Linked DNA regions of Homo sapiens. The protein of the gene in region 1 interacts with the protein of each later gene in a pairwise test. Each region holds a gene or a part of one and is shown on either strand. Other genes may lie near its edges. The genes, in order: PCNT, KIF5C, DNM3, MADD, SHTN1, YY1AP1 and AKAP6.

Region 1 (4,079 bases):
CTCCTTCTCGACACACAACCACCCACCCTGCTCCTCCTCCTCCTCCTCCTGGACATGCAGCCGCCCACCCTCCTCCTCCTGGACACGCAGCCGCCCACCCTGCTCCTCCTCCTCCTCCTGGACACACAGCCGCCCACTCTCCTCCTCCTGGACATGCAGCCACCCACCCTGCTCCTCCTCCTCCTCCTGGACACACAGCTGCCCACACTCCTCCTCCTGGACACACAGCTGCCCACCCTCCTCCTCCTGGACACGCAGCCGCCCACCCTCCTCCTGGACACACAGCCGCCCACTCTCCTCCTCCTGGACATGCAGCCGCCCACCCTGCTCCTCCTCCTCCTGGACACACAGACACCTACCCTCCTCCTGCTGGACACACAGCCACCCACCCTGCTCTTCCTCCTCCCCCTCCTCCCTGCTGTTTGCTAAATGTGCCCCAACTACTCCTCCAGGCTCTGAAACCCAGAGGCTCTAACACCAGAAGTGCTGGGCAGGTGTTTTATGGTCTCTAGGGTGGCACGGAAGCATGCTTGGTGCTGAAGCCTGCTGAGACCTGGGCTCACCCGAGCCCCTCGCAGCCCTCGTGAGTGTCCCGCACGTCGCTGGGACGTTTCTTGCATGAGTGCAGGTGCCGCCTGTTCCTGGGTCCACACTGCGTGCACCTCATTGGCGTTTAGAGCCTGAAAGATTCTTAATTCCACAGAAATCAGGGAAGGATGGGCCTAGGCCCGCAGTTCTGAGGAGACCCATGAACCTGGTTCGTGTGCTTGTCATGTGCTCTCGGGAAATACATCCTGTGTGGAGAGCCCTTCGCATCTCCTGCGGCAAACAGTCTTGGGGCCCTCATGACAGGAACGTTTCTTTGAATTTTTTTTTTTTTTTTTTTTTTTTTTTTTTGAGACAGAGTCTCGCTCTGTCGCCCAGGCTGGAGTGCAGTGGCGAGATCTTGAGATCTTGGCTCACTGCAACCTCCACCTCCTGGGTTCAAGCAATTCACTGCCTCAGCCTCCCGAGTAGCTAGGATTACAGGCACCCGCCACCATGCCTGGCTAATTTTTGTATTTTTAGTAGAGACAGGGTTTCACCATTTTGGCCAGGGTGGTCTCGAACTCCTGACCTCGTGATCCACCTGTCTCAGCCTCCCAAAATGCTAGGATTACAGGCGTGAGCCACTGCACCCGGCCCAATTTTTTGAATTCTTAAGAGAAAGCTCAGCCCTGCCTGCCAAATTCTTAGAAGTTACACACACAGAAACTCCAAATTCATCACATAAACCACAATTTTGTGTTTTCGGTGCTCAGATATAGAACCTTCCCATCCTTTTTCCCTTGTATGAAGCTTGTGTCCTCAATCACCGCAGAAATAGGTTATGACAGTTGCCTTTTAAGCAAGGAGATGTAAGCCTTGGTTCTGTTTCTCATAGAATTAAATAAACTTGAAATGTGCAGGGCTCATTGTGGAATCACCCGAGTGCTCCGAAACTCCCTGAAATCCACTCATTAACACCAGACAGGTGCGACTCCTGGTGAGCCAGGTATTCCACCGTGCACCTGTTCTGTTTCACCTGCAGGGTAAAGAAAAAGTACTGGAAGATTGTCAGCTGCCGAAGGTCGATCTCGTAGCTCAGGTGAAACAGCTTCAGGAAAAACTGAACCGTTTGCTGTATTCCATGACCTTCCAGAATGTGGATGCTGCCGACACCAAATCTCTGTGGCCCATGGCCTCAGCACACCTGTTGGAGAGCAGCTGGAGTGATGATTCCTGTGACGGAGAAGAGCCTGACATATCACCCCACATAGACACATGTGATGCCAATACAGCCACGGGGGGTGTAACTGATGTTATCAAAAATCAGGCCATAGACGCGTGTGATGCCAATACAACCCCAGGGGGTGTAACTGATGTTATCAAAAATTGGGATTCCTTGATACCAGATGAAATGCCAGATTCTCCCATTCAAGAAAAATCAGAATGTCAGGACATGTCTCTTTCTTCACCGACCAGCGTACTTGGTGGCTCCCGCCACCAGAGCCACACTGCAGAGGCTGGGCCCCGGAAGAGCCCGGTCGGGATGCTGGACCTGTCTTCCTGGAGCTCCCCTGAGGTCCTCAGGAAGGACTGGACCCTGGAGCCCTGGCCCAGCCTCCCCGTGACACCCCACTCAGGAGCCCTGAGCCTGTGCAGTGCCGACACATCCCTGGGGGACAGGGCGGACACCTCGCTGCCACAGACCCAGGGGCCGGGGCTGCTTTGTTCCCCAGGCGTGTCTGCAGCAGCGCTGGCACTGCAGTGGGCCGAGTCTCCGCCGGCTGACGACCACCATGTGCAGAGGACGGCTGTGGTAGGTGCCTGCTCTGCTCCCAGGCCTGCTGTTCCCGTGGGAATGTGGTCTGCCCGGCGCCACGGCAGCTGCCATTGTTTGTTCACCTCCTGACAGCACACACCTCGCAGTGCTGTGTGGGGCCAGCTCTGCAGGACTGGCATCATGGGCGCATTTAGATTATTTCAGTTGTTCAGGTATTTTTAAAATGCCTGAGATGCATTTGCCTGCCTCAGACATACCCTGGGCATGCTTCTCCACTGACGCTGACTCCAACGGGCATAGCCCAGACACGTCTTCGTGTGTGATGGGCATAGGGTTCTTTGTCCAGAATGGTTTTTTAGATTTATTTTTAGGAATGCTTCCTTTTTTTTTTTTTTTTTTTTTTTTTGTGAGATGGAGTCTCGCTCTGTCACCCAGGCTAGAGTGCAGTGACGCAATCTCGGCTCACTGCAGCCTCCGCCTCCCCAGGTTCAAGCAAATCTCCTGCCTCAGCCTCCCTAGTAGCTGGGACTACAGGCACACGCCACCACACCCGGCTAATTTTTGTAGTTTAGTAGAGACGGGGTTTTACCTTATTGGTCAGGCTGGTCTCGAACTCCTGACCTCATGATCCACCCACCTCAGCCTCCCAAAGTGCTGGGCTTACAGGCGTGAGCCACCATGCTCAGCCAGAAATGCTTCATATTTTTAACAGGTTTCACATATGCTAATTAATTTTAATTTATGAGTTAGATCGTATTATTTCTAACATAATCATTTTGGGATTTTGTGTATCTTGAGTAAGATAAAATTAAAAATCAGGTATGGTTGGGCTCATGCTTGTAGTCTCAGCACTTTGGGAGGCTGAGGCGGGAGGATTGCTTGAGCCCAGGAATTTGAGACCAGGCTGGGTAACACGGTGAGACCCTGTCTCTACAAAAAAAACACAAAAAATTAGCTGGGCGTGCTGGTGCCGCCCATGGTCCCTGCTCTTCAGGAGGCTGAGGCAGGAGGATCACTTGACCTTGGGAGGTTGAGGATGCAGTGAGCCAAGATTGAACCACTGCACTCCAGCCTGGGTGACAGAGTGAGACCCTCCCTCAAAAAATAATAATTTAGCAGATACATATTATCTGAAACATCCATATACTATCATTTCATGCAAAACAATTTAAATCTGAAATATTTACTATTGGCTACATTAAAATATTCCTAAAGAGCTGTGGGTGAATCTGATTAAATTGTTGGAAGCATTCGACCTGTGTGTTCACCAGTTTTGAGTTGTTTCATCTGGGGTCTATGTGGGAAGATAAATTCAGGCCTTTGAAAGTTTTCACCTGGCAAAGTCAGCGCTATGATGTAATTACTCATTATTTTATGACCATTTAAAAATCTCTTAACAGGAGAAAGATGTCGAAGATTTTATCACAACATCCTTTGATTCTCAAGAAACATTAAGTTCACCTCCTCCTGGATTAGAAGGAAAAGCTGATAGAAGTGAGAAAAGTGAGTTGGTTATCTTTCATTTTTAATTTTTTATTTCAGTGGTTTCCTAGCACAGAATAGTCAAAAGAATTCCTGCATCCTTTGCCTGGTTCTGCGTCTGCCCCCCGCTGACCTCCACCCCGGCTCTGCGCTTTGTCGGGCGTGCACCTGGGGCCTCTTGACTTCTGAAAACACGCCTGTACCTTTCACAGAGCCAAGGTTGCTGGCCCGGGCCACGCTCCACCCTGGAATGTTCACCCTGATCCAAGGCTGGCATCTCAGCTACAGCTAC
Region 2 (4,079 bases), on another chromosome or scaffold:
TAGACTGAGAATTTTTCTATTTATATGTAACTTACATCCTGCTGATTTATGCAAAATATGTGAGGTTGCTTACAATATTATAACATATAAATCAGAAGAGTGAAGAAAAAAAAGAGCATGGTAGCGGGAATCTGAGATATTACCACAGTTGAGCACCAAATGTTGATATAAGCCTTCTAGAGGCAAAACAGAAAGCATAATGCATAATGTGTCAGGTTACAGAGGGCTTTTTTTTTTTTTTTTTTTAATCAAAAGAGAAGTTGGGCTTTTCTTAGTGGCTGTTGTATTTCCAGTACCAGGTAATTCCATGTATTTCTTAAGGATAAGGCTCTACCTCCCTCTTGTCATCCCTGTCCCCATCCCCTAGAGTACCATGAGCTCTGCACAAAACCTATAGTAAGATCTCAGAGCTAGGGCCTCCAGCCGGTGACAGGAAACAGAGCCTTTCAGTGTCTTCTGAAAGTTGAGCTTACTGATGTTGGGTGCAGGCTGACAGAGGCCATTCAGGCTGGTCTAGACGTTCATCCTGGAGATGCGCCCAGCACCAGCCGAACTTCTGGTGGGAAGTGGAATGAAATGGACAGGGGTGGTCTTTTGGAGAATCTTATTATCCGATGGAGACGAAGCATACCTTTGGGAACTGGGAACCTCTTTCTACAGAGAGTCTGGGTTAGGGGCCTTGTTGCACCTGCTTGCTATCCTAAGTGCAGGCAAATGAGAAATGTTTTAATTTCCCCCTAGGAATGAGAAAATGCATTATGTTACTCTGAATATCCATAGCCTCAACAGATACCGACTTATGGAAGAGAATGTTGAGACTGTCAGGACTAAATACTTAAAGCAAAATCAGGAAATCGGAGGTTGTGCTGTTCATGTGCCACTATCCACATGTGTCTTTTGAGCTCTCAAAATGTGGCTAAGTCCAAATTGAGATGGGCTGAAAGTGTAAAATATACACCAGATTGCAAACACTATTGTGTGAAAAAAAAAATCTCAGTAGTAATATTGTAATGTAAACGATCTCAACATGTAATACCAGTTACATGTTGAAATACTATTTAGGCTATATAAAATATATTACAATTAATCTTACCTATTTCTTTTCACTTTTTAATGTAGCCACTAGAGAATTTAAAATTAAATATGTGGCTTGGCCGGGCACGGTGGCTTATACCTGTAATCCCAGCACTTTGGGAGGCCGAGGTGGGTGGATCACCTGAGGTCAGGAATTTGAGACCAGCCTGGACAACATGGTGAAACACCGTCTCTACTAAAAATACAAAAATTAGCCGGGTGTGGTGGCAAACCCTTGTAATCCCAGCTACTTGGGAGGCTAAGGCAGAAGAATCACTTGAACCCGAGAGGCAGAGGTTGCAGTGAGTCGATATCGCGCCACTGCACCCCAGCCTGGGTGACAAGAGTGAAACTCCATCTCAAAAACAAACAAACAAAAAATATGTGGCTTGTGTTATATTTGTATCTGACAGCTCTGGTCTAAACATCTAGAATTAAACAAAACTTTTTTGAGGAGTAAATTTCTACTGTGTTTTCTAATTCCTATGTTCTCTCTTTGGTTCTCTTTCAACAGATATGACTCCACGTAGCATGTCAAGGACTACATTAATCACCAATTCCTTTATTTTTCCCCCCCTACAGTTTCCATTTTTTTTTTATACTTGCTTACTCCAGCCATCTGCAGTACACCAGTTTCAGGTCTTTTGAGCTGTGTAGAGTTTCTGTGTGTACAGATGTGTGCTCGGACTTTTCTCTTTTTGAGAAATCTGAAGGAGATGGTTGCAGAAGATCCACTTACTACTGAGAACCATTACCACCGACTCGGCCTCCGGGGTGTTGGGTGGTTTCTGGGTGGTTCCTGGAGCCTCCTCTGGGCAGTGCACTGTCCCATCTGTACGCCCTAATGTGCCATTCCCTAGAGGGGAACAACCAAGTGCCGTGGAGGCAGATGATCATGGTCTGCCTCAACTGTCTGGTTTCCTGTAAAATAAACACATTGTTTTATATTTTTAGGGAACAAAAAGTGCTGCTATAGGGTTCAAAGTTTTCCTTCTGAACACTTTTCCGAAACAAATTACCCCAAAGACACATTTTGAATATCCTGGTCACATCTTTGGATCTGTAAAATATACCTTTTAGTATGGCACCTGTTAAAATGCAAAGCAAATTTCTTTGGGGCAGAAAAACAATCTGACAGTAGCAGTGTAGAATTTGTTCATTCAAATACATCTGTGTAAATGCAAAAAGTCATAAAATTCACCTCCGAGCTGCTTGCTTTTGAACCTGCAGCAACTAGTCTTAGCCGGCCCGGTTTGAACATCGTTCTTTCAGAAGTGCTGAAAATGCTGCAAAGTTGGATAAGTGGAAATGTGGCTGCCCCTCTCCTCACTACTTCCTCTCTGATCGTTCTGAAGCTTGCATTGGGAATGGCTGCTTTCTCTAACCATTTTCAGCTTGAGTGGGTATTGCTGAAGAAATCCAACATCATTCCAGCAGTTGAAAAAGGAAGCCTTCGGGAGAAAGTGCTTGTCAAAATTTTGTTCTTTGTGCTTGTGTATGAGTAAGTTGCCATGAATAAGTTATTATTTTAACCCATAATTGGCGACTGTTTATATGAATTCTTTCTTTGGCACCAAATAGGTTTCATCTTCTTAGGCACAATTAGAAAAAATCCACATAGATGGATATTTTACATTTAGTTATTGCTTTATCCAAATACATGAATCTAAAGCTGAATCAACCCTTACTTCCAGTTGTGCTTATTAAGAAGATCAATTTCCAAGTAGTAAAGTTTTCAGGGAAACTGACTGTGCTGCTATTTGTTTTGACAAATTTGGGGGTAAGTCAATGACAACCAAACCAATCTCGGTGGAAACTCCTATCCTATCATGTTGTGTGCCCAAGATGAGTGAGCTGGCACTGTGCCCTGAAGCTTTCACCACTGTAATGAAATATATGCCAGGGGAGACTTTGGGCTTTTCTCATGACTGTGTGGGTCGAAGGTAGCTCAAGTGTGTGTGTGTGTGTGTGTGTGTGTGTGTGTGTGTGTGTGTGTGTATGTGTGTAAAGTGCTAAGAACTGTGCATTGACATCCAAACATTTCTTGTACAAAATTTCCCTAGCAAAGCAAACCTGCTTTGACTTAATTTATTTGTTAAATGTTGCACTTTGTTTATGTATGTTTTGTTTTTGGTGGGGAATAAGGAGAGAGAGGACGACAAATTCTATTGAAGTATTTATTTTGTGAAGATGGCAATTTTGCATTTGTTTAAATTTTTTTCATTCTTTAATTTTGTTATCAGTGCCAGCCCAATATACCTGCTCTACCATTATTTGCGGTCTGATAAAAGGGTCCTTGTGGGGCAGGTTTTGCAAAGCTTATCAGGTAATAACATATGCCACATAACCTTGTTGATATGTTTGCTTCTGATTTGGGAAGCTAAACATTGGTGTTTGAGAGGATTGCCAATTATTAATTGTCATTACCACTACTCTCCATTACTTTTTGTTTGGAAATTGAACAAAGGTCAGTAATGGTTTTTGGCTCTTGTTAATATCCATCATAAAATAGATTGTTTTAGATTCTTTCCAGGGTGATTTTTCCCTGGGTACCCCGTTTCTACTTCTAAAGAATTGCTTGGCACTTTCATGTTTCAAAGGGAAACATTCGCTTGTAGTTCCATTTTACTTGATCTCTACAAGGGACTGACAACATTTGCTTTACTTTTATTCACAGAGAAAGTTGGCTTTGATGTCTCTTAAAGATAATTCTGCTAGTTGCTGATCAGCCAGTCAGTTCACCTAGCTTCAATCTTTATAGGACTTCTAATCTAATTTTCCTATAGTGTGACTAAAAGGGAGGCAAATTATTGGAACGGATTATTCAAATGGATCCTTAAATATTGCTATGTATAATAAGCCAGTTATTATATCAGGACCATGTTCTCTGTAGGCCACTTTCTAAAAAAGCCACATATGTGCAATTTTCAGGTTTTTAGACTATTGCTCCCTGTACTTTAAATGTAAAAACCACACTTCTGAACAACTAAGCTCATGAATATGAT
Region 3 (4,079 bases), on another chromosome or scaffold:
CCTGCGAGAGTGCTGTATCCAGGAGTCATCCACTGGAGGGGGTGCCGGAGTGGACACGGTGGCTGTGCTGATGTCCCCAATTATCCCAAGGGCTTCTTTCAGTGCTTGATACATTCGAAGCATCTCATCCCGGCGCTGAGCCTGCTCAGCAGATTCCTCCATCAGGGTATTTTGGTCCTCTGAAGAATACAACTGTGCTAGGAGCTCGGAATTTATGAAATCTTTAACCTGTCAGATCACCACAGAGAAATAAAAATGGGAATAAATGAGTGACTGAGTGGAGGTAGAAACATGGCTGTGGCAGTCAGAGTCTGGACAAAGTCCACCAAAGTCCACCAAAGTCCACCCTGGGAAAAGTGAAGCACCAAGCGTCTGTTTACTTTTGTTTTGTCTCTATCCCCAGTACTGGTGACAGTAACAGTTTCCCTCTGTCTTTTGGCTGTCCACACTGAAGGATGATAGAGATGAGTAGAAGAAGGCCAAACCCAGCCATCACCAGAACAGGGCCTGCTGGCTTTGTGAGCATTTCACAATATTGTCTGGAGCTGTTTGGCTTATAGAAGAGGGAAGGTACTATGAGGTAAGAAGCAGTATTTTCAACAGAAAACAGTGATGTGAAGAAACCTATGTAATCACACGTTTTCCATTCCTTGGCATTCGCAGTCCTTTCCCTAGCTTTTACCAAAATCACTGGAAAATTATTGAGATGCCAAGTTTCAGTGTCGTCTCAAAAGTGAAATTAGCACCAGTAAGTGAATATTTATTAAATACAGAATCTTATATAACTATGCAGGTTGATTTATAAACAAGTGAAAGAGATGCACTCTGTTTTCCAGAAGTTTACAATAGAAGTTAGTTAACAGTGATGGGGACTGACATGAGGTTGCATAGTTAGCTAATATATAAAAACAAACTAAAGTATGAACACTATGTGGGAGTCTCAGGGGGAGGGGCATTTTGTTGCAGGATGAAAATGGAGAGGATGAATATGGTGCACAACACTGAGAGTGGGAACGCCAGCTACTGTATCTCATCAACTCTAAGACACCAGTGATTTTAAGAAACACTACTATCATATGTGCTGACTATTCAGACAAAAAAAAAATACCATCAATCAAACTTTGACAGGATGTCAAGATGCCATTGAGTATAAGATGCATCTTCATTTCAGAAATATTAAATAAAAAGAAGTGAATGTGAGAATCGATGAAGTATGGTATATACCAAGTGGCTTCATAAGTTATATGACAATTCTTATCACACACTGAAGAAACATGTATTAGTATTCCAGTTTTATAGATACAGAAACAAGTTCCAAGAATTTAAGTATCTTGTGCTAGGTCACACAGCATTCAGTTGAATCCATAACCTTCTGACTTGAAGTCCGGTGCCCATTCCCTTACCCCATTATCTCACTGTGATTGAGTGCTTAAAAAAGTAAATTTTTGTTTAAGTATCATTATTTTACAGTAGTGCAGCAATTAACTTAAGCCTAGTAAAAATAAGCCGTTTGAATTTTTCAGTTTCTCTGTTACATGAGAAAGCTAACTCTTATCTAGACTCATGAATATCTTTAAGAAAGGCCAAACGCAAGTATATATTTAATTGTTAAAAAATCAGGCAGATAACAGAACAGCTGTCAGATGCTCCAAATTTCTAGGATATGGTTAAATTTGTAATTCAGAGATGACAAGAACCTAAAACACATAGCTTCATTATGTTTTAAAGGCATCAAAACATGTAAATAATTCTACTAATCAAAAAATTCAGCTAAATCAAAGGTTTATTGTGGTGAAATAAAGTGTTTTCTGTACATATTTTGTAAACCAAGAGTGATTCAAAGGTGAAAGTAATCTAATACACAAGATGTATTTAGGAAACCCTCTGTGGAGTAGAGGTTTATGCACGATAGTTGTGGAAGGTAAGTTTGGCCAGGAATCCTGAGGCAGATGCGAAGGCCTTGAATGCCAAGGAAAAGTGTTTGAACTTTATTTGCTTGGCAATGAGGGGCCAGCGAAAGCGTTTAAGCAAGTAAGTGAAACAATAAAAGAGAGTTTTAGGAAAATTAATCTGGCTAACATTGAAAAAGACTTTGCAAGGGTGGTAGTGAAAATAAAGAAATCTGTTAGAAGGCTATTGTAGATCGTTCATAAGATGGTAAATGTTTCATTTAATAACGCAGTAGTATAAAAAATGGATACATACAATGACATTATAAGGGAATAATGAACTGAACTTGGTGCTGTTGGGATGTGAAGGGCAAGGAAGAAAGGAACAACCAAAGACATCTCAAGCATTGACATTTGGATGAGTAGGAGAATAGAAACTCAAACATCAGAAAAGAAAGTCAGATTTAGAGGGAAGGCAGCAAATTTGGCTTTAGGAATATTTCATTCCCTTCCTTACAGACGCATTCACTTCTAAATGTACTTGCAGGTATGCAGGGAATCATGGATATTTGCACAAATCTCCCACTGTTGGGTATGTATATGCAGTTGGATGCATGGTGCAATTCAAAACTCAAAACCAGACAATTTTCCTGGCATTGACCATTGGTTGGGTTAAGCTCTTTAGAAACTTTACATATTACTGGAATATCACTTAGAATCTATTAAATACAATTTAAAAGAAGATTCTTCCAAGAATAGATTTAAAGCAGAGCTGAATTAAGAATCAACTGTCAAACCATGAAGCAAAATAAGGGCCTGTTTCAGCATTCTGACCAAAGATGTGCCTTGAATCTTCCACAGCAATTATGACACACTGGAACTTGCCTACTGTGCAATACAGTGGATTCAGAGCATAGGCTGTGGATTTAAGTTCTAGTTCTAACACTTACTGTTCTTGGGCAAATAATGTAAACTGTTTGAGTCTCAGGTTCCTCATCTGTGAAATGAGGGTAGAGCTACCTCAAGTATTGTGAGGATTAAAGGAAGGAATGAATACAAGTTGTCTAGCATGATGCCCAGCACACAGTTAGTGCCCCTTCCAAAAAATGCTGTGATTTTTACTGTCTATAGGCTACATTGGCATTAGGTACATCGAGACAGGAGAACAATAGACAGCTGTTGCAACAGTACAGGTATCAAGCGACATAGTTAAATAGGGCATAGAGGTTAACATTTTTTATTTTGCATTTAAGCAAAATTTTAGAGATACTCTTCTCTCCTTCTGCTAACCTAGCTTTGTGACACTAAAATTGGAGTTTGGAATGAAGGTAGGGGGACTTCCGGGAGTTTCCAGACACTTCAGGGACTTTCTGGGAAGTCTGTATGCCAGTGGTATACAGACATTTAAATCTGGTACAAATATTTAAATCAAGAATTCTGCATGACAATCAGGGGTCAAGTGAATCCCTTTTAGATGATAGCATTTAGAAAATACTTCACCTAACATAACAAAGTGATTATACTTAAATTTGAGATCTGAAATAATATTTATGTTTTTAATTATAACACCTTATAACCTATACATCTCTGTATGGTTTGTAAAAGTTCTCACACATGAAACCTCATTCCAGCTCAAACTCTCTAGGCTAGATAAACAGGCATTACTGCACCATGTCGCTCTGCTCAGTGTAAAGGAATGTGAGGTCATTAAAAATGTTCCACATGTTTTCCTCTCTTACTTTAACCCTTCTCTAGCAACCCGTAATATGTTTGGATCTTAAACCTTCTTTTCTATGACTGAGACCATTTTAAACCCTTCACAAATAGAAGAGACATTTCTAGGGTTTTCCTACAGTTTCCTACAGTTCAGTTACCAAGGAGACCATTTCCTTAAAATCTCTTTGTTTCTAGAATTGGAGGGTCACAGTACGGAACACGGTGATGCCTCTCATTCACACAATACATGTATTAAAATTCAATTGAGAAGTTTAATTTTGTTTAGTTTTGGGGAGGGGGCTTGGTTAGAATTTTGTGATCTTTGAGATCTCACAATTCTCTCACATCTGCTTAGTCCTCCTTTCCTTTTCCCAGGGATTTAATTCTGCTAAAGACCAAGGAAGTTTTCCTGCTTTAAAAAGTAACATCCTTTGACTCACAAATGTAATGTTAAGGAAAAGAAGTTAGACACAA
Region 4 (4,079 bases), on another chromosome or scaffold:
CAGGCGCGGTGGCTCACGCCTGTAATCCCAGCACTTTGGGAGGCCGAGGCGGGTGGATCACGAGGTCAGGAGTTCGAGACCAGACTGACCAACATGGCGAAACGCCGTCTCTGCTAAAAATACAAAAGTTAGCCATCTGGTGTCACGCACCTGTAATCCCAGCTACTTGGGAGGCTGAGGCAGGAGAATCGCTTGAATCCAGGAGGCGGAGGTTGCAGTGAGCCGAGGTCGCGCCACTGCACTCCAGCCTGGGTGACAGAGCAAGACTCCGTCTTAAAAAAACAAAAAACAAAAAACGAAACCTTATTTGAATTGGTTTGTGCTATCTGACAGTTTCAGGGGCTTTTCTGAATTTGATTTTTTATTTTTTTTATTTTCTGAGACAGTGTCACTCCGTCACCCAGGCTGGATGGAGTGCAAGGTGGTGATCTTGGCTCACTGTAACTGCCGCCATCCAGGCTCAAGTGATTCACATGCTTCAGCCTCCCGTGTAGTTGGAATTATAGGCACATACCACCTCGCCTGGCTAATTGTTGTATTTTTAGTAGAGACGGGGTTTCACCATGTTGGCCAGGCTGGTCTTGAACTCCTGACCTTGAGTGATCTGCCCACCTTGGCCTCCCAAAGTGCCAGGATTACAGGTGTGAGCCACTGCACCTGGCCTGATTTTTTTGTTTTCTCTGGATGGTATGACGAAATATTTAACTGTGGTAGGAAGTGCAGTGAGAAACATGTATTTTTTTTTTTTTTTTTTTTTTTTTGAGACAAGAGTCTCGCTCTGTTGCCCAGGCTGGAGTGCAGTGGTGCAATCTTGCCTCACTGCAAGCTCCGCCTCCCGGGTTCACACCATTCTGCCTCAGCCTCCTGAGCAGCCGGGACTATAGGAGCCTGCCACCACGCCTGCCTAATTTTTTGTATTTTTAGTAGAGACAAGGTTTCACCGTGTTAGCCAGGATGGTCTCGATCTCCTGACCTTGTGATCTACCCGCCTTGGCCTCCCAAAGGGTTGGGATTACAGGCGTGAGCCACCGCACCTGGCCAACCTCATGTATTCTTTAACTGACCTCTCATTCCTAGTGGTAAAAAATGTCAGGTTACTTGGGTGCAGTAGCTCACACCTGTCATCCTAGCTACTTGTTAGGCAGAGGCAGGAGGTTCATTTGAGCCCAGGAGTTTGAGGTACAGTGAGCTATAATTAGGCCAGTGCACTCCAGCCTGGACGACAGAGTGAAACCCTGTCTCTAAAAGAAGCCAACAGAAACAAACAAAGTTGTCAGGAGTCTAAGACATGTTCTTAGGTGAGGATGGGAACATTGGATAAATGGGCAAAAGGACATCAGAGCTGGCAGTGAAAGGAGCGAACTAGCACTGCCAGGGAATCCACATGTGGCCGGGTAGGCTAAGGATGGAAGGGTGTCAGTGTCACTGGCCTTCATTTGGTACATTTGAAGAGAAGAGCGATTGAAACTCTTTCATTGCATGCTGATGCTTTGTCGCATTTGCTGCACTTACCCTCTCACCCATCTCCCATCCTCATACCCTGACCCCACTCCCCACAACAGCATCTGCAAGATGGGTTGCTTCCCTGCACATACCCTCAGGCCCCTGGCCCTCTGTGCTGGATGTTTTCTGAAAACCAGCGGTCCCTGTTTCATGCATGTGTGTGTTCAGTACCTGAAGGCTCCCTGTGTCATTTACCCGCCCCTGGCTTGAGAGGCCAGTTTTAAGGGTGGTCTTTTCTTAGAGCCTTGGTTGTCTCCTGGTCACTTGGCTTCCAGCTCTGAGGTGCCCAAGAACCAAGGTTATGTGCATTCCTCAAGCTTTGGGAGAATGCTCAGATTATCTGGCTTACTGCTCCTCGGAGGGGTAGAGGGGTTGCGGTATTGTGGTACACCTACTAATTGTGTATTTTGTGTCCCAGTATTTGGGCTAAATACTCTAATGGAGATTGTTACTGAAGCCGGCCCCGGGAGTGGTGAAGGTGGGTCTTGCCTGTGAGCTGTGCATGATCTTTTTTTTTTCTCTAGCATCTTCTGTGCCTGCCCGAGGGCCATCCTTCTCATGGAGCAAGCAGCGTCACATGAGTGACCTGCTTGCCCCGTCCCCCGTGACGCCCATGCTTGCCCATGGGGCTTGCTGCTGGTGCATGTGGAGTGGCCTGAGTCTCCATCCCCACCTCCTCCACATTGCCATGGCTGGTTTCTACCTACGTATGATGCCTTGGTGCTACCCTCACCCAGCCCTTCTGAGGAACGGGCATGGAACATGGCTACTTAGGGCTGTGCTGGCATGAGCTCCTGTACTACAATAGTGATGTCTCTCATTCCTGCCTTCCCTGCCACAGGAAACAGGAGGGCGTTAGTGGATCAGAAGTCATCTGTCATTAAACACAGCCCAACAGTGAAAAGAGAACCTCCATCACCCCAGGGTCGATCCAGCAATTCTAGGTAATAAATGGTAGAGCTGTTTTAAAAGTTCTCAGGCAGAGGTGGGGTGGTTCCTCTACAGAACTTTAGGGATGCTCAAGAGTGGGAGAGAAGCTCTCAATGGGGTAGATGTAATCAATTTCTTGCCAGCACTTCTCATTCTGGCTTGATCTCCATGCAACTGAAAGCTTACAGTGTTGAGGGGGGTTAATCAGCAGCGGTGGGTATTTGGACAAATCGCGTGCTCCAGAGAGGTGGGGATGTGGTGCACTTGGACATTCAGAGACATGGCTTTGTGTTTTACCCCTGGAGGCAGACATCTAGTCTGGGTGAAAGGTGGGGGGTGCTCTGCAAAGGAGCTGATGACCACAGAAGCGGTGTGTGGACCCTGTAGTGAGAACCAGCAGTTCCTGAAGGAGGTGGTGCACAGCGTGCTGGACGGCCAGGGAGTTGGCTGGCTCAACATGAAAAAGGTGCGCCGGCTGCTGGAGAGCGAGCAGCTGCGAGTCTTTGTCCTGAGCAAGCTGAACCGCATGGTGCAGTCAGAGGACGATGCCCGGCAGGACATCATCCCGGATGTGGTCAGTGTTGGGGGTAGGGAATCGGAGTAACTGGAGAGAGGGATGTGAACACCACAGGCAATTTGCCAACGCTAGCCCCTGGGTTATTGTTGCAGGAGATCAGTCGGAAGGTGTACAAGGGAATGTTAGACCTCCTCAAGTGTACAGTCCTCAGCTTGGAGCAGTCCTATGCCCACGCGGGTCTGGGTGGCATGGCCAGCATCTTTGGGCTTTTGGAGATTGCCCAGACCCACTACTATAGTAAAGGTAGGGATCGTACTTGCTGGGCACCACGCCATCCCTAACTCTGCCACTTGTCTCCTGAAGAGAAAATATATGTGTACCCAGGACACGTTTCCCAGTGCCACGCTGCTTCCCATTAGGCTTTGGGATTTTATTTTCTAATGCATGTTTATACGCAGTGGGTATTCTTTGTTACGAAAAATAAGACATCAGCTCATCTTTCCTTGAACTTCTTCCATTCCGCACCCTCCTGTATCCTGGCTCCTCCCACCTCATATCTGCGCCTTGATTCCTACTCACTACTTCTCTTGACCTCTTGATATTTTTCCCTCAGAACCAGACAAGCGGAAGAGAAGTCCAACAGAAAGTGTAAATACCCCAGTTGGCAAGGATCCTGGCCTAGCTGGGCGGGGGGACCCAAAGGCTATGGCACAACTGAGAGTTCCACAACTGGGACCTCGGGCACCAAGTGCCACAGGAAAGGGTCCTAAGGAACTGGACACCAGAAGTTTAAAGGAAGAAAATTTTATAGCATCTATTGGTACGTATCAGTGTGTTTGGTGTGGTGGAGGGGTCCTGGCTTCTTAAATATCCCTTTCTCCTCAATTCATCCAGAATCCTGCCTTTCTCTGCCCCATGCTTTGCTTCTTAGAGAGGGAAGGGGGCCTGTGTCCATTTCTGGTGGTGTTTCTTTGTACTTCTCTAGTCTTTATGCTTCATCCACAGCCACCCCCCACCCCGTATCTTAGATGAAGAATGGTAAGTTTTGTTTAGAGGGCCCAATGAGGCTTACTGCAGGGGGTGTGAGCTGTACTCCTGGCCCCTCCTTTTATTTACGTCTGCATTTCTT
Region 5 (4,079 bases), on another chromosome or scaffold:
ACAAATAATGCTTCTGGGCTGGTTGTGTTGGCTCACGCGTATAATCCCAGCACTTTGGGAGGCCAAGGTAGGAGGATACCTTGAGCCCAGGAGTTTGATACCAGCCTGGGCAATGTAGTGAGACCCCATCTCTCTAAAAAGAAAATGCTTTTGGCACTGGATTCATGTTGGAGACATCAGTGTGAACTCATGTTTAGCTTAATACAGGTATGGATGGTTACACATATATATATATGTTGGTATATACATATATTTTCTTGCTCTGTCAGCTGAGAGAGCCTAGATGCACCAGTATCAATGAGCACATCTAGAGCCCAGAACTTGGCTTCTAATGCCATTCTCGAATAAAACGAACAGGGTTCCTAGGAGAAATGGCTAATTTTAGGAAAGGGGCAGGAAATATACAAGATGAGCCTAGGGCATCTTGTAGTGTGGAAACTAAGGAAATGCACCAACTGATAAGCTGACATTGATGGAGATACTGTAGTCCCTGCTTACCCATGGAGGAAGCTATGTTTCAACACCTGCAGTAGGTGCCTGAAATCATGGATAATAACAAACCCTATATATTCCAAGTTTTTTCCTGTGCATACGTATCTGTGATAAAGTTTAATTTATAAGTTAGGCACAATAAGAGATAATAAAAACTCATAATAAAATAGAACAATTATAACAATATACTGTAATAAGAGTTATGTGAATGTGGTCTCTCTCTCTCTCTCTCAAAATATCTTGTGGTACTGTAGTCATCTATTTTCATACCATGTTGACCATGGGTAACTGAAACCCTGAAGAGTGAAACGGTAGATAAGAGGGAAACTACTGTCTGTCAGAGACACAAGAGCCGATGGAAAGAACATCCAATGTCCAAAGACGGAACTCTGAACAACAGAATATTGGATTATAATTCAAAATTTGAAGTAATATTCATGAGTTGATACTGATATAAATAAATGATTAAAGACAAATCTCCCATGCAGAGCAATTCCAAATAATTTATGTAGATGTTCCCCCTCAAAGCGGTGTATCTTAACTCCCTGATTCTTTTTTTTTGAGACAGAGTCTCGCTCTGTCCCCCAGGCTGAAGTGCCGAGGCATGAGCTCTGCTCACTGCAAGCTCCGCCTCCCAGGTTCACACCATTCTCCTGCCTCTGCCTCCCGAGTAGCTGGGACTACAGGCGCCCGCCACCATGCCTGACTAATTTTATGTATTTTTAGTAGAGACAGTGTTTCACCGTGTTAGCCAGGATGGTTTCGGTCTCCTGACCTCGTGATCCACCCGCCTCAGCCTCCCAAAGTGCTGGGTTTACAGGCGTGAGCCATCGCGCCTGGCCCTAACTCCCTGATTCTTAAGTGTGGGCAGCACATAGTGAATTCCTGCCAAAGACTACAATATGGAAAAGGGGGAACCAGTAACTTTACAGTGGAGAAACCTGACAAACACTATGTCAGCTAGATGATCAAGGCCAACATCAACAATGATGATAGCATGATAGTGTGATGTGATGAATTGGCGTTTTACCTCTGTGGTCTTCCCCTAAAAACCCATAAAGCCAGTCGACTCATGAGGAAAATATCAGCAAATCCCTATTGAGAGACGTTCTGCAGAATACCTGATCAGCACTTCTCCCAACTGTCAAGGTCATAAAAATGAGTAAAGTCTGAGAAACTGTCATAGTCAAGAGATGCCTTAAGGATTGAAGGGTAGAAAAAATAATCTGTCCCTCAAACCTTGTAAGTTCATAATTGGGACAGATACCTGTAACAAAAGACATGAACAAGCAAGTTTATTAATGCATGCAGTGCACATCGCAAGGGAGAAAAATAAGCAGTGGCTCAACATACTGTCTTCAACAAAGAACTATACATTTAGAAAAGTGTTAGGACAAAGGAAAGCAGTTCCAGGCTTCCAAAGGCAGGAGAATGTGGGAAGGTGAGTTTATGGGGAAACTCCTGGGGTAAAGTCTACTCGCAGATTTCTCTGCCACCATCTCTGAGGTGATATGGGTTGTAAAGGAGAATGGGTATCTTGTTTTTAGGTGGGAAATGGGGAGAAGATAGACCTCTTGTCTTTGTAATTCTGTGTCCTGCTTTTAGGCAGACAGAGGGAAGGCAGATAGTTTCCTTCATCCTAATTATCTTTAGCTCGAAGGTCTTTCATATTTTGGGGAGATAGGCTGGTTTCCTTCAGTTCTCCCCTTTGAAACTTTACTTTCAGAAAGTCTCACATATTATGTGCTAGGCTGGTAGCTTTGGAGAGGTATGGTTGTAGATAAGTGATTGGCAAAGGGGAAGAAAACCAGATTGGAACCAGCAGAAAAGAACAGATTTAAGTATATTGTCTCATATCTTATTGAGTCAGTCTCTTAGTCCTGAGACTAGGTTAGTTTAGGTAAACAGTCATGTTTTATTTCAAGAGGTGGTGTTATGGGTGATCTCTTTAATGTTAGGTTTCTATATGTATAAGCATACAAATACTTAATAAGAGACATTTCTATGAAAAAAAAGGAAAAGCAAGGTTAATGTTTAGAGCAGTCTATAAATTAGTTTCTGAGTCTGGAGAGCAGCCAGTTGAGAGGATTTATAAATCTTAGGCTCAAAGTGTCTTCAGCTGGAGTGGGGCAGGCAATTGCAATCTGACAGATTTTCCTTGTTTGTAGTTTAAATATCATAAAGGTTGTCGATACAAAAGCTGTTGTGGTGATTTCTCTTATGTTTGTATCAAGTTGTCCAGCTTTAGCTTGCATAGCTTCAGAAAAAGCCCAATTTTAATTTCAGTGATTCCAGGTCAAAGGGTGGGAGAAAAATTGGAAATGTTAGTTTGGAGACTCACAGCCAGGTATCAGAAAAAACTAAAAGAATTTAGGATCCATTCCAGATTGCAGGTAGTTAATAAAATCTCAAAAACAATGAACAGGGCTAGAATCTAGTAATGGGTGAACTATAGTTTCTGAACTATTATTTTTCTGAAAATATTTTTCCTCTCTCACACTAATTTCTACCAAAAAGAATCAGTAAGACCAGTTTATTTGTAAAATAAGTTTTTGTCTATTATACTTGGCCTAATTATTTACATAAATGCAGCAAAAATAGTGATTGACTATGTAAGCCCTTTTAAAATCTGCTTTGCTGGAACTCTTCATAAGGAATCTCGGATTAGGCTTACAAAAATGCCTCCTTAGGCTAAGAAGCCAAGCTTAGGACTCAACATCAGATTGTGCCTATAGTAGTCTTAGATAGATAGCTCTCTTCCCTAGATTCCTGATGTTCCTGGGCCTGTCAGGAAGGTGACATTCTTTACCCTATAAGGCAACCATTTGAACCATGTATTCAAGGTACGAGGCCAGTATTTCCAAGGTGCCTTTATTGGCCCCATTAAACTGAGGTTCCTCTAGGGACCTCAGTTCCCAAAAACTGGTCATATCAGAAAATACGACATTCTCATCAAACTTTGGCAATATAACCAGTATTTTCAATTGTATCCTATTAAAAGAAGAACGGATTCTTCCTGAACTTATGCAAATGCCTATATTATCCTAAAAATAAGAATACTCATGAATAGTTTCCAAATTTTGGAGGGATCAAGTAAGGAAGAAAAGTAAATGTTTCAATTCTATTTGCAAAAGTATACTTTACCAAATTGTCTTAAGCCATAGATAGCGCAAAAGAAGAAAATGTTTTCCTAAATCTGGAAAATAAAAGAATCAGTAGTGTTTCTAATAAAGTCCTAAAAATCACAGTCCCTCATCATGTTAGTCCCATGTAATTAATTCTTAATTTTGCTCGATGTTAGCAATTTTAGGAGTTCAGTTTCTCCTTTAGATTTCTGGAGTTCATACCTAGTCCACTGGTATTTCCTTAAAGTTATCAGAGACCTGTACAGGTCAGAGTTCTTTTTGTTCTTCCCATATACCTCCTTGAAGACCCAAAACTTTAGGATTATAATTGCTTGCAAAAAGCTTTTAGAAAGAGCATCAGAATAAAGCAGTTATGATAAATGTGAACAACAAGACTTAAAATGGCCATGGTTAAAGATCTGATGGGAGTTCATTATGATAATAATGCAGTTGACAAGGAAA
Region 6 (4,079 bases), on another chromosome or scaffold:
ACGTGATTTAATACCAAATTATAGTATTATCTTACACATCTAGTGTCCTGTGTTTTTCTTCTGGAGATATAAAAATGACACTTATGGAAGGAGAAATATGGATATAGTAGTTTTGTCTCTAGAAATGCAGAGGTGCCTAAAATTGAGAGGCTGAGAGAGGGAGACAGAAATGAATGAGACTGAATTGTCTCATTCCTTTTATGGTTCTTTTGTTCCCAACCTCAGGAGGAATCTGGGAGAACTTAATGAAAGTTAAGAAAGAATGAAATAAAAGTAAAATTTGGAATACCAGGTTTGTGAGGGAGATTAAAGAAGTTGGAATCTTTTTTCTTTTTTTTTTTTTTAAGATGGAGTCTCGCTCTGTCACCTAGGCTGGAGTGCAGTGGGGTGATCTCGGCTCACTGCAACCTCCGCCTCCCAGGTTCAAACAATTCTCCTGCCTCAGCCTCCCAAGTAGCTGGAATTACAGGTGCGTGCCACCATGCCTGGCTAATTTTTACATTTTTGGTAGAGATGGGGTTTCACTATGTTGGCCAGGCTGGTCTTGAACTCCTGACCTCAGGTGATCCACCTGCCTCGGCCTCCCAAAGTGCTGGGATTACAGGCGTGAGCCAGCACGCCTGGCCTGGAATCTTATCCTGGAAGAAAAAAGCATTGTTGAAGGTCTGTTATCCTTCAGAGATTTAAAGGGGAAAGGAGGTAAAACATTTTTGAGCATACACTATGTGACAGGTATTACTAGGTACTTTTTAAGTGTTTGTTTTACTTTGTGAATAAAGTGTTACACGTAAGAAAGAGTAAGAGAGGCCGGGCGCCGTGGCTTACGCCTGTAATCCAACACTTTAGGAGGCCGAGGCTGTCGGATGACAAGGTCAGGAGATCAAGACCATCCTGTCTACAGTGAAACCCCGTCTCTACTAAAAATACAAAAAATCAGCCAGGCGTGGTGGCAGGCGCCTGTAGTCCCAGCTACTCAGGAGGCTGAGGCAGGAGAATGGCCTGAACCCGGGAGGCGGAGCTTGCAGTGAGCCAAGATTGCGCCACGCACTCCAGTCTGGGCGACAGAGCCAGACTCCGTCTAAAAAAAAAAAAAAAAAAAGTCAACTTTTATTGCCAGTGAATGGGACTCCCTTTAGACCTAATGTTAGTTGAGGAAAGACTGTGGAAACTCTTTGGGGAGTGGTAGGCAGATGGGAGGGAATCAAGTTAGATAAGGACAGCTCTACCTAAATGCAAAAATGCATTCACAGGCTTTTTGAAGCCCTCTTTTTTCCTAGAAGTTGATTTATCAGAGATTTATTTTCTTATAGCCAATGAATTTCCCTGTTTGCCAAAGCAAGTGGCTTGGATCCTGGCCACAAGCAAGGTTTTCATGTATCCAGAGTTACTTCCAGTGTGTTCCCTGAAGGCAAAGAATCCCCAGGATAAGATCCTCTTCACCAAGGCTGAGGACAAGTAAGTGTTTACTCTGGGGGATCAAATATCCCAAGGAGAAGATGTAGTTCCTTTGAGGAGTTTAGGGGAAGTAAGACTTGTATAATAAGACATGGACACAAAAGGAAAAGCAGTATAGATGAGCAGAGTCCTCTAGAACGTGCTTGTTCTAGCAGTGCCAAATACTGCTTTTTGGGGGGATGTTACACACATTTTTAAAATGTTTTAGACTGGACATGGCGGCTCCCACCTGTAATCCCAGCACTTTGAAAGGCCAAGGCAGGAGGTTGGCTTTTCTAATGTTATTATTTATTTAGAGACAGGATCTTACTCTGTCACCCAGGCTGGAGTACAGTGTTGCAATCACAGCTCACTGCAGCCTTGAACTCCTGGGATCAAGTGATCCTCCTGCCTCAGCCTCCATGGAGTAGCTGGGACCACAAGCGTGTGCCACCATACATGGCTGATTTTTTTTGTACAGGTGAGGGTATCTCTGTGTTGCCCAGGCTGCTCTTGAATTCCTGACCTCAAATGATCCTCCCACTCCTGGCCTCCCAAAGTGCTGGGACTATAGGCATAAGCCACCACACCCAGCTAGATTATGAACATTTTTATGGCCCTTTGTGTGTATTGCCACACTGTTAACAGCAAATATGTATATATGTAACCATGATTATATATGTTATGTTAGAGGGTAGTATTGGTGCCAGTTTAATTTGTCTGACGGGGTACCTATTATTCATTTTATATTTGTTTTATTAGAATCATTCTCCTTCCCATGTATTCTCTTTGAACTTCCTTTGTGTTGTTAATATACAGCTCATCATGATCTGACATTTATTGATGATTTATGACTAGTTTCTCTTGCTCCTACTTAATTGTGAACTATTTGATTCTTATTCATAGTACTTAATCACTACTCACTAAATACCTGAAATTTTCTACTGAGTAGTCACCAACTTGTAGTAGTCACTACAAGAATTAGTTGTAGAAAAAGTAGATTGGCCAGCCATGGTGGCTCACACCTGTAATGACGACACTTTGGGAGGCCGAGGCAGGAGGATCACTTGAGGCCAGAAGTTCAAGATCAGCCTAGGCAACAAAGTGAGAACTGGTCTCTACAAATAATGAAATAAAACATTAGTTAGGCATGGTAGCAAACGTTTATAGCCACAGATACTCAGGAGGCTGAAGTGCGGGAATCGATTGAACCCAGGCATTCAAGACTGCAGTGCACTGTAATCATGCCACTGCTCTCCAGCCTGGACAACAGAGCAAAACCCTGTCTGAAAAAAATGAAAAAGTAGATTGGGCCACACGCCATGGGCTCATGCCTGTAATCTCAGCACTTTGGGAGGCTGAGACTGGAGAATCGCTTCAGCTTAGGAAGTAGCAGCTGCAGTGGGCTGCGATCACGCCACTGCACTCCAGCCCAGGTGACAGAGTGAGACCTTGTTTTAAGAACAAGTAAGAAAAAGTAGATTGTAAAATGTGTTAGTCTGGGGAGGCCCTTTAGAAGGAAGGACTGTGAAGTGAGATTTAGTGTTATTGCTCCTTTCTCAGTTTGTTAGCTTTAGGACTGAAGCATTTTGAAGGGACTGAGTTTCTTAACCCTCTAATCAGCAAGTACCTTCTAACCTGCAAGACTGCCCGCCAACTGACAGTGAGAATCAAGAACCTCAACATGAACAGAGCTCCTGACAACATCATTAAAGTGAGTGTTTCCTGCATGCACTATCCAGGCACCTCACCAACACATATCTGTTCTTTTCTCTTGTTATTCTCAAAGAAAAGAAGAACCTTCTTTTATCTAAAGCTAATTTCTCCTACTTATATACTAGATTAATTCCCCTGTTGCCTTTTCAGGGACATTGATTCATTCATTACGTTCCTCTGGAGTATCTTCATCCTCTTAAAAGATTCCACAAATCCATGTTTCCCTGTAATAATTCTCTTTCTTGAACTTTCTAGAAATGATATGCAGTATTCCACTTACATGCTTTGGGTTTTTGTTTTGTTTTGTTTTTTTGGTCAGACATAATCTTGCACTGTCACCCAGGCTGGAGTGCAGGAGTATAGTGGCATGATCTTGGCTCACTGCAGCTTCCGCCTCCCGGGTTCAAGTGATTCTCCTGCCTCAGCCTCCCAAATAGCTGAGATTACAGGCGTGCCCACCACGCTCAGCTAATTTTTTGTATTTTTAGTAGATACGGGTTTCACCATGTTGGCCAGGCTGGTCTTGAACTTCTGACCTCAAGTGATCCACCAGTTTTGGCTTCCCAGAGGCTAGGATTGCAGGCATAAGCCACCGTGCCCAGCCTATATACTTTTTCTCAATTTTGTGTTTGTATGTATGCATGTATGTGTGTGTGTGTGTGTGTGTGTGTTTGTGTGTGTCTGTGTCTGTATGTATGTATGTATGTATGTATGTATGTATTGAGATGGAGTTTCGCTCTTGTCGCCCAGGCCCAGCCTATATACTTTTTCTCAACTCTTTTTACTTATTGATTGATTGATTGAGATGGAGTCTCGCTCTTGACCCCCAGGCTGGAGTGCAATGGTGCGATCTTGGCTGACTGCAACCTCTGCCTCCTGGGTTCAAGTGATTCTCCTGCCTCAGCCTCCCTTGTAGCTGGGATTACAGG
Region 7 (4,079 bases), on another chromosome or scaffold:
TTTTCCTGTGCAGCAAGTGCCATCATTCATACCCATTTTCTAACAACTCTCTGCAAATCTGTAGATTAATAGATTAACACAGCCACTTCTCACTGTGACATGATGGGTGGGAATGTTTCACCCACCATAAGGTCCAGGAGTTGGTCACCAGCATCTCATTATTATAAACAGTAATGGCAGATATGGACTTCTGAACATTAGCATGGCTGGAACTACCTTGCTGGAGAAGGGTTCATTATAAATATTGACTATAATTCCCTTTTAAATTGAAAAAAAAAAATGAACTTTTCCTGTAGTAATATAACCTCGAATTATAGGCCCTCTGGCCTCCTGGAGAGAGAGAATTAAAAAAAAAAAAAAAAAAAAAAAGGAGAAAAGGATAGTATTAAAAAAAAAAATACCCAGACAGCATAAATATGTTGTGTAATTTAAATGAGAGTTAAACAAAGCAGGTGATAAAAGTAATCAAGTAGTAAACAAAGGGCAAGAGAATTAATATAAACATTGAACCAACAGGATGGTTAATTAGCTTGCTTTGCAAAGAAGATTTGATTTCTCCCCTGAAAGCAATGGTGGTGACAAATAAACCTCACCTACCAAATATCTTCAAGTATAATGTAATATATCCCCCATTGCCTATAAAAGAAATGCCACTGAGTTCCTTTGCATGCCACTGAATTACCATCTACAAGGGCCTTGCTCTGGGTTGTTTTGACAATGGTCCCTTAGTTTTTCTAAGCACTACAATTTCTATTTGAATTGTTCCAGAGTAGGAGGAAGTGGGGAGTCTGAAACTCAAACATCTACAGGGCTCAGGCAGTATCAGTGGGGGCACCAAAAGGGCCATATGGGACTGGCTACATAAGGTCCACTGTAAAATAAAAATGTGGAGCCTCTTATTAAAAAATTATTAAGAATTCCAAGATGGTTACAGCAGAGTATTAAACTAAGTGTGGGCCCTTCTCAGTGCAGGGCCCTATGCAACTACACAGGTTGCACACCCATAAAGCCTGCCCAGCAGCCATACAAAACAAGCTGCAGGCTAGGTTTAGCTCATGTATTAGCCAGTTTGAGACCCCATTCTAAAGGCTCTACTAGCCAGGTGGGGTGATGTGCACCTGCAGTCCTAACCACTTGGGAGGCTGAAGTGGGAGGATCGTTTGAGCCTAGAATTTCAAGGCTGCAGGGAGTAATGATTGCACTACTGCAATCTAGCCTGAACAACAGAGTAAAACCCTGTCTCCAAAAAAAAATCTGAAAATAAAATAAAGGTTCCACATTCTCTCCCTACTTACCCTTGTGACTCAAAGCACACCACTGCAAGATGGCTGGAAGAGTTTGGAGCATGCCCCATGGCTGAAGAACAGAGAAAAATATGGCTGGTGGCTTATGAGGAAAACAAAGTCTGTCCTTTATCTTCACCAAATCTTAAAGCCAACTCAGGAATTCAATTACTGACCGGTATGTGCTCGTGGAGAAGAAACTGTATGCCTTATTAATTCAAACTGCAATAGTCCCCCTCATTATCAGGGAATATGTTCCAAGACCCCCAGTGGATGCCTGAAACCATGGATAGCACCAAACCCTACATATACTATGTTTTTTCCTATACATATATACCTGTGATAAAGTTTAATTTATAGATTAGACACAATAAGAGATTAACAATAACTAATAATAAAACAGAACAATTGTAACAATATGCCAGCATCACTAATCTTGAGCTTTGGAGTCATTATTAAGTAAAATAAAGGTTATTTGAACATGGGCATTATGATAGCGAGATAGTTGATCTGAAAACCAAGACGGCTATTAAGTGACTTAACAAGCTGGTAGCATATACAGCATGGATATGCTGGACAAAGGAATGATACACATCCCAGGCAGGACAGAACAGTAATGGTGAGAGATTTCACTGCACTATGCAGAACAGCGCATAATTTAAAACTTATTGTTTATTTCTGCAATCTTCCATTGAATGTTTTCAGACCACGGATAACCATAACCACAAAAGGCTAAATCACAAATAAGGGCGCGGAAGGGGCTACTGTACCTAAAACTCTGTTGCCATGGCCAAAGTCCTATATGGATTGCTATTCCTCTGAAAAACCACACTCAGGGCCCATCTACAGAGTTCAGTCAATATGATTGTTTCGAGAAATGCTTCCCATTTAAAGCAATACTGTAAGGCACACTAGGGCGATTAGATGAGACTGAAGGTAACTGGTATACCTGTCCTTGTACAACTAAGTGTGTAGTTGGTACCTTGTATGATACATACCTCCATCAGCAGGCTGGCTGGAATGCTCAATTTAGAGGGCTCTCTGGACAATTTTTAAAGGTGATGAATATCTTTTATAAAAACAAAAATATCTCTCCTTAACTGATCTGCCACACACATTTCATATTTCCATATGTCAAGTTTGTCAACTGAGATAGACATGCACTATTTGACTGATTATAATTTTATTTCTCAAAATAGTTTATACCAAAAAAATACTAATTGCCATATTGGTCTTGTCCACATCCAGAAAGATTCTAATCCAAACCCATGCAAGAAAAAAAAAAGTTATTATTTAATGCAGTAAGTTTACCTCCACATATAAACCATATAGCTATATGTACCTATACAAATGTGCACAGATAATGGGCTTCTCTAATAACACATGGAATAAAAAGTAAATAGAAATAGTATTGCAGTATTAGAGGAAATAAATTATTTTACCAATTTACCCATTTTTCCCTTCCCCTCTAGAATGTAGCTGGGGAAGAGATTTGCATCTGTCTTGCTCATTGCTATAGATTCCCTGACAATGCCTGGCATATAGGAGATATTCAATAAATATTTATTGAATTGAATTGAATCCATGCGATCAAAACAAACTGCCATTCATGGGTTCTAGGATTATAAATAGAAGAAAATCAGAGACATGTAGCAAGACCACCAACTTCCCTAAATTCCACTGGCTATTTTATTTCCTAATTGGAACCTAACTCCTGTAGTCATTGTACCTAGCAGCTTTGATGCTTTCTGATCAGCCTCTCATTCCTGTACCTCATGCAGACACAAGCTTGGGCCTCTTTGGAGCAGGTTAGGACAAAGGTTAACTTCTTCCTGGAACCTAGAAAAGGCTAATGAGCCCTGTGGAATAATATTTCTAAGTATTCACCATACAGGAATCAATATCAACATGCTGTCAGTGTGTGCATTAGCCCCACACTCAAACAAAGAACAGCCCTTAGAGCCCAATAATGACGCTGGGCGTGGATAGCTGGGGATGAGCAAGATGATACAGAAATGACTATATCAGCTCTCCTCAAACACAAGGCTTCCAGGTTATTACACAAGACTGTCATTCTTGTACTTTGTCAGAGATAGACAGAGTTTGGTTTCAGCCACTGATACATTCAGCAAAATAAATCCTCTATCTTCTTAACCTAAGAGATAGATTCAGATTACACTTTCCAGACTGTGAGAGAAGTTTCTGCTTCTGTTCTCAACACCAGGTTGAGAACAGAACCTGGTGCAACAGCAGGGAATACAAACATCTTAAAGTTAACAAAGCACCACAAATATAGCTGATAAGACAGGTTTATAACAAAGCTGAATCATTACTGACTCAGGTAAGACCTGCTTTGAGTGCAACTCCATCATGCCCACAATTATTGATGTAACATTTTCCATACAGAGATCCTGCTAGAAAGTTATATCAAGCAAGGGCAGTGGCAAAAGTCTAAGCATCAACTCTTCATTACTTAAATCTCTGGGTACAAAGTAAATATTCACATCTGATCAAGATTCATGCTCATCCTTACAGTGAAATCAACCTTAGTGTTGCAAATGACATTTCATTCTACATATGAAATCTGATTTTCCAATTAGAATGAGGAGGGGTGGGGTACGTGTGATAGAGTATAGATGACTGATCTGTATGGTATATACAGTAAAGATGTCATAAAACTGAGATGGCCGTGGGTAAGCATGTGTGCTGCATAGCCAGATCGCAATGGTTTGGAATCCTGGCCCAATCACTTATTAACTACATAACCTTAGCCAAGTTTATTCGCCTGGCTAAGGA

What was found.
Region 2: the proteins of PCNT (region 1) and KIF5C interact in a two-hybrid assay, tested with the Homo sapiens proteins (one large-scale study listed by BioGRID and IntAct).
Region 3: the proteins of PCNT (region 1) and DNM3 interact in a two-hybrid assay, tested with the Homo sapiens proteins (one large-scale study listed by BioGRID and IntAct).
Region 4: the proteins of PCNT (region 1) and MADD interact in a two-hybrid assay, tested with the Homo sapiens proteins (one large-scale study listed by BioGRID and IntAct).
Region 5: the proteins of PCNT (region 1) and SHTN1 interact in a two-hybrid assay, tested with the Homo sapiens proteins (one large-scale study listed by BioGRID and IntAct).
Region 6: the proteins of PCNT (region 1) and YY1AP1 interact in a two-hybrid assay, tested with the Homo sapiens proteins (one large-scale study listed by BioGRID and IntAct).
Region 7: the proteins of PCNT (region 1) and AKAP6 interact in a two-hybrid assay, tested with the Homo sapiens proteins (one large-scale study listed by BioGRID and IntAct).

The regions. Positions count from the first base shown.
Region 1 is NC_000021.9:46,414,499-46,418,577, forward strand, and holds part of PCNT (pericentrin), read left to right. Parts: intron 1-1,570; coding exon 1,571-2,341; intron 2,342-3,705; coding exon 3,706-3,808; intron 3,809-4,079. UniProt on the Homo sapiens protein: Integral component of the filamentous matrix of the centrosome involved in the initial establishment of organized microtubule arrays in both mitosis and meiosis. Plays a role, together with DISC1, in the microtubule network formation.
Region 2 is NC_000002.12:149,021,490-149,025,568, forward strand, and holds part of KIF5C (kinesin heavy chain), read left to right. Parts: intron 1-1,588; 3' UTR 1,589-4,079. UniProt on the Homo sapiens protein: Microtubule-associated force-producing protein that may play a role in organelle transport. Has ATPase activity. Involved in synaptic transmission. Mediates dendritic trafficking of mRNAs.
Region 3 is NC_000001.11:172,383,282-172,387,360, reverse strand, and holds part of DNM3 (dynamin-3), read right to left. Parts: intron 229-4,079; coding exon 2-228; intron 1-1. UniProt on the Homo sapiens protein: Microtubule-associated force-producing protein involved in producing microtubule bundles and able to bind and hydrolyze GTP. Most probably involved in vesicular trafficking processes, in particular endocytosis.
Region 4 is NC_000011.10:47,287,047-47,291,125, forward strand, and holds part of MADD (MAP kinase-activating death domain protein), read left to right. Parts: intron 1-1,921; coding exon 1,922-1,981; intron 1,982-2,344; coding exon 2,345-2,447; intron 2,448-2,742; coding exon of another isoform or gene 2,743-2,820; coding exon 2,821-3,007; intron 3,008-3,102; coding exon 3,103-3,253; intron 3,254-3,563; coding exon 3,564-3,770; intron 3,771-4,079. UniProt on the Homo sapiens protein: Guanyl-nucleotide exchange factor that regulates small GTPases of the Rab family. Converts GDP-bound inactive form of RAB27A and RAB27B to the GTP-bound active forms.
Region 5 is NC_000010.11:116,995,066-116,999,144, reverse strand, and holds part of SHTN1 (shootin-1), read left to right. Parts: intron 1-4,079. UniProt on the Homo sapiens protein: Involved in the generation of internal asymmetric signals required for neuronal polarization and neurite outgrowth.
Region 6 is NC_000001.11:155,667,696-155,671,774, reverse strand, and holds part of YY1AP1 (YY1-associated protein 1), read left to right. Parts: intron 1-1,310; coding exon 1,311-1,455; intron 1,456-2,997; coding exon 2,998-3,148; intron 3,149-4,079. UniProt on the Homo sapiens protein: Associates with the INO80 chromatin remodeling complex, which is responsible for transcriptional regulation, DNA repair, and replication. Enhances transcription activation by YY1. Plays a role in cell cycle regulation.
Region 7 is NC_000014.9:32,332,133-32,336,211, reverse strand, and holds part of AKAP6 (A-kinase anchor protein 6), read right to left. Parts: intron 1-4,079. UniProt on the Homo sapiens protein: Binds to type II regulatory subunits of protein kinase A and anchors/targets them to the nuclear membrane or sarcoplasmic reticulum. May act as an adapter for assembling multiprotein complexes.